2 linked regions of the Homo sapiens genome follow. The protein of the gene in region 1 interacts with the protein of each later gene in a pairwise test. Each region holds a gene or a part of one and is shown on either strand. Other genes may lie near its edges.

Evidence for each region. The genes of interacting proteins can lie anywhere in the genome.
Region 2: the proteins of CCDC88B (region 1) and TSHZ2 interact in binary tests that used the Homo sapiens proteins (3 or more experiments, as listed by UniProt).

What each region holds. Positions count from the first base shown.
Region 1 is NC_000011.10:64,346,704-64,350,203, reverse strand, and holds part of CCDC88B (coiled-coil domain-containing protein 88B), read right to left. Parts: intron 874-3,500; coding exon 746-873; intron 654-745; coding exon 536-653; intron 1-535. UniProt on the Homo sapiens protein: Acts as a positive regulator of T-cell maturation and inflammatory function.
Region 2 is NC_000020.11:52,978,858-52,982,357, reverse strand, and holds part of TSHZ2 (teashirt homolog 2), read right to left. Parts: intron 1-3,500. UniProt on the Homo sapiens protein: Probable transcriptional regulator involved in developmental processes. May act as a transcriptional repressor.

The sequences.
Region 1 (3,500 bases):
TGATAGACTCGCATGCACCTGCTGGGTATCTTGCTGGGTACCACCCTCCCAAGCCCCTGCATGGCCTCCTCACAGCCCCTGGCACCTAGTTATTGTCACCTGTTTTCTTGCCTCTATCCTGACTGTCCTGTGAGCTCCCTGAGGATGGCAGCCTGGGATTGGGCCCCACCACCACCCCACCCTCCGTGTGGAGCCCGCACACAGCCTGGGTATCAGAAACCATCGCTGGCTTCCTTGATGCCAAACACTGAGCTCCCTAGGCAGTGGAGGACCTCGGGTGAGACAGGCGGAGCAGTCATCCACAGCAGAAGTTCTGTCCATGTGCAGAATGGGGAAAATGAGACCCCAGATAAGTCAACACGGCCACCTGACTCCCAGCACAGTGCTCTCTCCAACAGGCCCCACATGGGGAGTGAGGCAAGTAGCTAGCCAAGAATCCAGAGGCAAGACTAGGAGGACAGATGACCCTGGCATCTGCTCATGGGATGGAGGGCAGGGTGGCATGGCCCCCAGCTCCCAGGCGGGCAGGCATCACCTGGAACAGCTCCTCTTCCAGCTGCAGGGCCCTGGTCTTGAGCTCCATCAGCGCCTCCTCCTTGCTGGTCGCCGCCGCCTGCAGCTCAGCTTCCAGCCGCTGCTCCAAGCCCTGGTACCTGCCAGGAGAATCCTTAGCACCCAGCCCCACCCCACCCTCGCCCCACCACACCCCTGCCTCCCTCATTCTTCCCCTCAGCCCTGTCCCCACCTCTGGTGCTGGCTTTCCTTTTCTCGCAGAAATTCCTGGCGCTCGAGAGCCGCCTGCTCCAGCTCACGCTGCAAATGCTCCAGCCGGTCCCCCAACTCCTTGCCCCGCACCACAGCTTTCTCCAGCTCCTGAGGGCAAGCAGAGCAGGCTCAGGGCAAGGGGGCAGGAGACAGCCGGAGACAGAGGCCTGAGAGTCAAGAGAGCTGCCTTTCTGTCCTTGACCTGCCATCCTGGGCACGTATCATTAAGCCTTTGGGCTCTACTTCCCCATCTATAAAATGGGAGCAAAGCCTGGGGCCCTTGAAATTGGGCATGAAAGAGCTGGGTGTTGTAAGCCTGGCAGGGCATGAGGAAGGCCCCTGGGCTGGGAGTCGGTAGGTGACACATGTTGGGCAAGTGCCGTCACCTCTCTGAGCCCACGGTTCTTCATGTGCGCAGTGAAAGGTGGATGCGCCCGGTGGGCTGCCACCCCAGCCATGTGACAGCGAGACAGCTAGAGAGGCTCAGCAGAGGTGGGTCGGGTGAGAGACCTTGGCTACAGGGAAAAGGCCACGGAGGGCTGGAGGGACAGGAAGTCAGGAGCTGACAGTGGGGGCTGGGGGGGCAGGGGGCGCCAGGATGCTGCCAGCTAGGTGACCTGTGGCCTTTGGCGGTTGGGCTGCACCACTTTGGAAGGAGACGGGAGGCCCATTCTGGCCTGTGTGCCCCAGAGGGAGGGAGACCAAACCATTCTGCCACATGGGGGGCCTGGCAGGATGAAGCTTCGGGGACAGCTGCCCATGACCAGCTGCCAGCCAAATCCTGCCTTGGAAACCAAGCCTACAAGCCTTGCTGCTGAAAACTACCTTCCTGGCTTAATAACTGCACCTAGGCCTTGCCCAAGGGGCACTGCACCTCCTGACACTCTTGGCCACCACCTCTCCCTGAAAAACTACAAGTCCGATGAGGCACTGCTGCCTGGCTGGCTGACAGCCACTAGCGCAAGTACTGGGGTAGGAGGCACGGTGAATAGAACCTCCCGCCCAGCCCCTGCCCTGCCCTCCTCCGGGCCCTGGCCACAGCCCTCCTAGAACCCCCTCCCCCAAGCCTGGGAGGCTTCCCCACCCAGTGGACAACCTGAGACCCCCTGGTTCCCTGACCTCCCCCTGGCCAGCCACCTTCTCCTGCTCCAACCAGGAAATCTCACAAAATTCCCCCTTTGTCCCTAGCTTCCCCCACCCTCTCAGTCCTTGGAGCCGGCTCTTCCAGCCCGCCAGCCCTACCCTCACCTTCACTGCCTACCTGCTGCCATTCCCTCCCATGGAACAGGTCCATTCTAGGTGCCAGGCATTGCCCCAAGCTCCCTACGCTCATTATCTTACAGGATCCTGTGAGGCAGGTACAATTTTTTTTTTTTTTTTTTTTTTTTTGAGACGGAGTCTTGCTCTGTCACCCAGACTGGACTGCAGTGGCGCGATCTTGGCTCACTGCAACCTCTGCCTCCTGGGTTCAAGCAATTCTCCTACCTCAGCCTCCCGAGTAGCTGGGATTACAGGTGCGTGCCACCACACCCGACTAATTTTGTGTTTTTAGTAGAGTTGGGGTTTTGCCATGTTGGCCAGGCTGGTCTCGAACTCCTGACCTCCGGTCATCCGCCCACCTCAGCCTCCCGAAGTGCTGGGATTACAGGTGTGAGCCACTGTGCCCAGCCAAGGCAGGTACAATTTTTATTCCAGTTTTACAAGTGAGAAAACTGAGACTCAGAGAGGTTAAGTAACTTGCCCCAAGCCACACAGCTGGAAAGTAGGCAGGTCGCCCGGCTAGACAGCATCTCAGCCACACCCCACAGAGTGGACCCCAGAGATGGTCTCTCACCTTCCCTCTCACATTCGCCAGAACCCCCTTACCCTGGGCCTGTCTTGCACAACGCCTGACCCCATGTCTACCCAGCAGTGTTCTCCCCACCCCCCATCCTCATAATGGGTCTCTGAGCAAATTACTCTTCCTCCCTGAATTTCAGGGTCCTTGTCTGTACAGAAATGGGACTGGAAACTGCCTGTGCAGGATGACTCAGTTCCTACCTGTGTTGCAATCTCACAGGTCCCCTAGCACTGGGGCCCATTGGCCCAAACACCCTTCCTCGCGCCTTTTCACACGCAGACCTGACCACTTTGCTCACTTTGCCCATTGGGGAGCCTTCAGTGGCTGCCCAATCCCCCATGGCAAAAGCCCTAACCCCTTCCTTAGCTTGGAAGGAAGCTGAAGCCACGCCCAAACACTGGATTGCTAGCTTCGTGGTCACTGCTGTGTGCCCAGAGCCTGGTACAGGGCCTGGCACCAAGAAGATGCCTGTAAACATGTTTAAATGAATAAGTAAAAGTGTGTTGGCCAGGTGCGGTGGCTCACGCCTGTAATCCCAGCACTTTGGGAGGCCGAGGCGGGCAGATCACAAGGTCAAGAGATTGAGACCATCCTGGCCAACATGGTGAAACCCTGTCTCTACTAAAAATTCAAAAAATTAGCTGGGCATGGTGGCATGCACCTGTAGTCCCAGCTACACGAGAGGCTGAGGCAGGAAAATCGCTTGAACCTGGGAGGTGGAGGTTGCAGTGAGCCGAGATCACGCCTCCAGCCTGGTGACAGAGGGAGACTCTGTCTCAAAAAAAGAAAAGAAAAGAAAAGAAAGAAACTAGCCAGGCCAACATGATGAAACCCCATCTCTACTAAAAATACAAAAATTGGCCGGGCGCGGTGGCTCACGCTTGTAATCCCAGCA
Region 2 (3,500 bases), on another chromosome or scaffold:
TGAGGGTTCTTCCTTGGGTCCTTCCTGGCAACTCGCTATGACTATTCTAGATAAACGATCATAATAAATTAAATGCATGGACTTTGGAAGCAGGAAGAGCTGAGTTTAAAACTCAGCTTGGCTACCGCACGAACTTGAATGAGTTATCCTGCAACTTACTCAGATTCTCATCAGTAAAACAGGGATTATACTTGAAAGTTATAAGGAACAGGACTTAGCCCAGATGTCCCCTCCTCTGAGAGGTCTCCCCTGACCATCTACATCTCTGTTGTCCCAACTCCTGCTCTCATAATTTTGCTTTTATAAAGCTATTGCCATCATGAAGCTTTTTTTCTATACTGAAATTATCTTTTCCTTTATAAATTTCTTTGTATATTCTCTAGCTTCCCCCAATTGGAGGGCAAGATCCCCAGGGATCATCCCCATCCTATTCACCTCCAGGTCCAGGTAGTAGAACAGCATCTGACACATAGTAGGAACTCAAGAAATAACTGCCGTGTAAACGAATAAATGTAAACATATAAAGCACGTGGTATGTAAAAAGCACTTGTTTAGTGGCAGATATCATTGTTACCATTGTTACCGTTGTTGGTGGTGCTATAAATTCTATTTCTTGGGAAAGAAACTCTTTTTTGAGCGGGTGCTGGACTCCAAACAGCCCAGAATGAGTCTGCCTCAGGAGAAGAGGCTAAAACACTGCTTAGCCATTGTGTTTCCAGGCTTACAAATCAAAATCCATCCATATCTGGTTTCTTTCAAGCCCTGGACCCCTTGTTCTGTGATAACTGGTAAGTTGCTTGTTTCCCAGTTAATATAAATTTTCCATAGTCTGGTTATTCAGGGTAAAGACACACTATTCCCTCGTATCCCTGTGGTGCCTAACAGTTTCAGCACACTTTCTCAGCCCTCCTCTGACACAATCCTTTCCACACACCTGGAACATATGATTGCCCCCATTTTATAGATTAGAAAGTGGAGGGCAGAGATTTGAGCAGCCTGCCCAAGTTTACGCGGCCGAATAAGAATTAGACCTAGAGACTTGAACTTCAATCAGTCTGACTCCAAAAACTCACATTCTTACCCGGAGAGTAAGGTTTATCTCTAGAGCTTGCCCGGGGCTAAATAACTAGCGTGGGGCAAGGCTGCAACCAGAACCCAAGTCACTTGCCCTTACTCCGCTGTTCCATCCACAGTCTCAAATCTAATCCCAAGGGGGAAAACAAGAAGAAGCACTCAGCAGTGTACCCAACTTTCTAATAAAGGAAAATAGCCAAAGGCAATTCTGATATAAAACGCATTTATGGCTTTTCATTTTGGCATTTCTTCTGTACCAAATGGCACCGTGCACATAGAATAGATTTGACTCTTCTCTACAGCATCATCTTGGCCCAGAAGCTATTCATATCTCTCTGGGGTATAAAAGAGAGGCTCCTAAATACATAAAAAAAATTCCAAGGATCTGATAAATTGAAGTGATTTAAAGTAAGCCCTGTGCAGTTTATATAGAGATATTTATATGCCACTGCTCTCACTTACACAAGCCATTTTTCCCCTATAGAAGACCTTGACCCTCTGTCTCATTTTTGTATCTCCCATGTCACAAGGTTTCATGGGTTTTTCATGATCCAGTAAAGCATTACGGAAGTTTCTTTCAAATTCATTACAAATAGAATGGCTGCTGCCAACTCTGTTTTTATCTCATTCTGCCCTTCGTAACTATTTTCATTAAAAGCAATAACTGTATTCTACCCACCTTAATATCTAAACTATATAATTTCCATAGAAATGGCTTAGATGTGGCTTTAAGAAGAAAGCTCAGGGGTGATTTTAGAGTATTCCTTCAGTTCTGAAAGCACTCAAGTAATTAAGACCAGTGATCTTAATTTTTATACTAACAGAAACTGCAGAATGCTGGCCTTTTTTTTTTTTTCTTCAAACCCACCTTAGTGTCTAGCAGTGTTGTGGAAACATGAGGCCTTTCCTTAATCATAAATGGACACTACAGCTTTTCAATTAAATTAGTCTTTGGAGAGAGATGCAAAAGAGCTAAAAAGCTCCTTAAAAAAATCTTCCCTGCTTCACCGCTTCTCATTTGCCAAGAAGAGATGTTTAGCTAAAACGCAATGCTGTTGTCTTCTTATCCTGCCGCAACAAAGTTCTCTTGATCTTGAACCCTGAGCTAGCTATCTTACGAAGATCCTTGAGGTTTTTCTTTTGGTTTGCATGCCCACATTTGGTTTTCTGAAACAATTTTTTAAAAAGTGTTGTGTAATATAGTGTCTTACATCTGTGTGTCCAGAGAGAGTTTCATTAGTCCCTGCTTCAGGCTGGGGTAGCAGGTAGGAGGATATTGAAATTGTTTTTTAAATGACACAGGTAGAAAGAGAGCTCTCATTTAGATGAGCAGAATTCAAGACAAATGCTTTCAAATATGATCCAGGTATTTCTTCCCCCCATGTAATTTCTCTAAGCTCATTATCTCTAAAACTTTTGCATTGTGCGTTTTCCTGTTGTTATGCATAGCTAAATAATACTGATATATTAATAATCGGATTATCTTGCTGTGCCTCCTGAATTTTAATTTCTAAAATTGTAAATAATTTTAGCATGACTTTAGCATCCCAGAATATTTGAGGGTGCCCAGAGGATGTCTTTTTCTACAGGGGAAACGTAAAAAATTGAGGGAGGCAACAACTGAAAATTCCAAATGGCCATTTTAATGACTTTCAAATGCCTCCAAATTATTGAATCATTTCATTCATGGAGTTTGCTTTGGAAACAAATATATCAGCAATTCCCACTCGCATCTCAGATTTCTCTTCTGTGTCTCTGTGTATGTATATAATGTCTTTGAACGGACCTCAGTCTGATACCCTTGGACAAAATAATTTCTCGGACAAAATGAGCAATATGGATACGGCCACACTGCTGGAGACGCTCCCCATTCATGTGCAAGTTAAAGTTGAAACTATGTGTTTGCAGAGGTGCTTTCTCATTAGTTTGCAGACCTAGACTAGCAGTGAACCGTTGGGCTCTGAAGTCTCTAATTTTTATTACAATGTCTTAAAATCTGATGTATCTTGAAATCCACTTTAAATGCTATCTCTAAACGTTCTTCTCAGAAAAAGTTCCCAAAACAAGTGAATGAAAGGTCAGTAGGAGGAAAAAAAAAAGAAATTATAAATCCAGTGAAAATAGTGTTACATGTTAGAGGCATGTAAATAGATGGTGTTTTTTTCTTACTGTAATATTCAGGTAAGCAAGCAAGTACTCTCCACTTTCTTATGTGGTTAGAATGACTAACTTCCTCCTATAATCGAAGAGCTGCTTGCCAAAGATCACCCTAAGGAATGTGAGAATTTCTAACTTTAAATAGAACTTGTAAAACTTAAAAAAAAAATTAAAAATACCAATTGTTACAAATTACTGAAAAATGAATGTAAAAACCTATTCTGGGGTAAGCAGACTCTATAAAGATAGAAGGATAAGCTCTCCCTGAT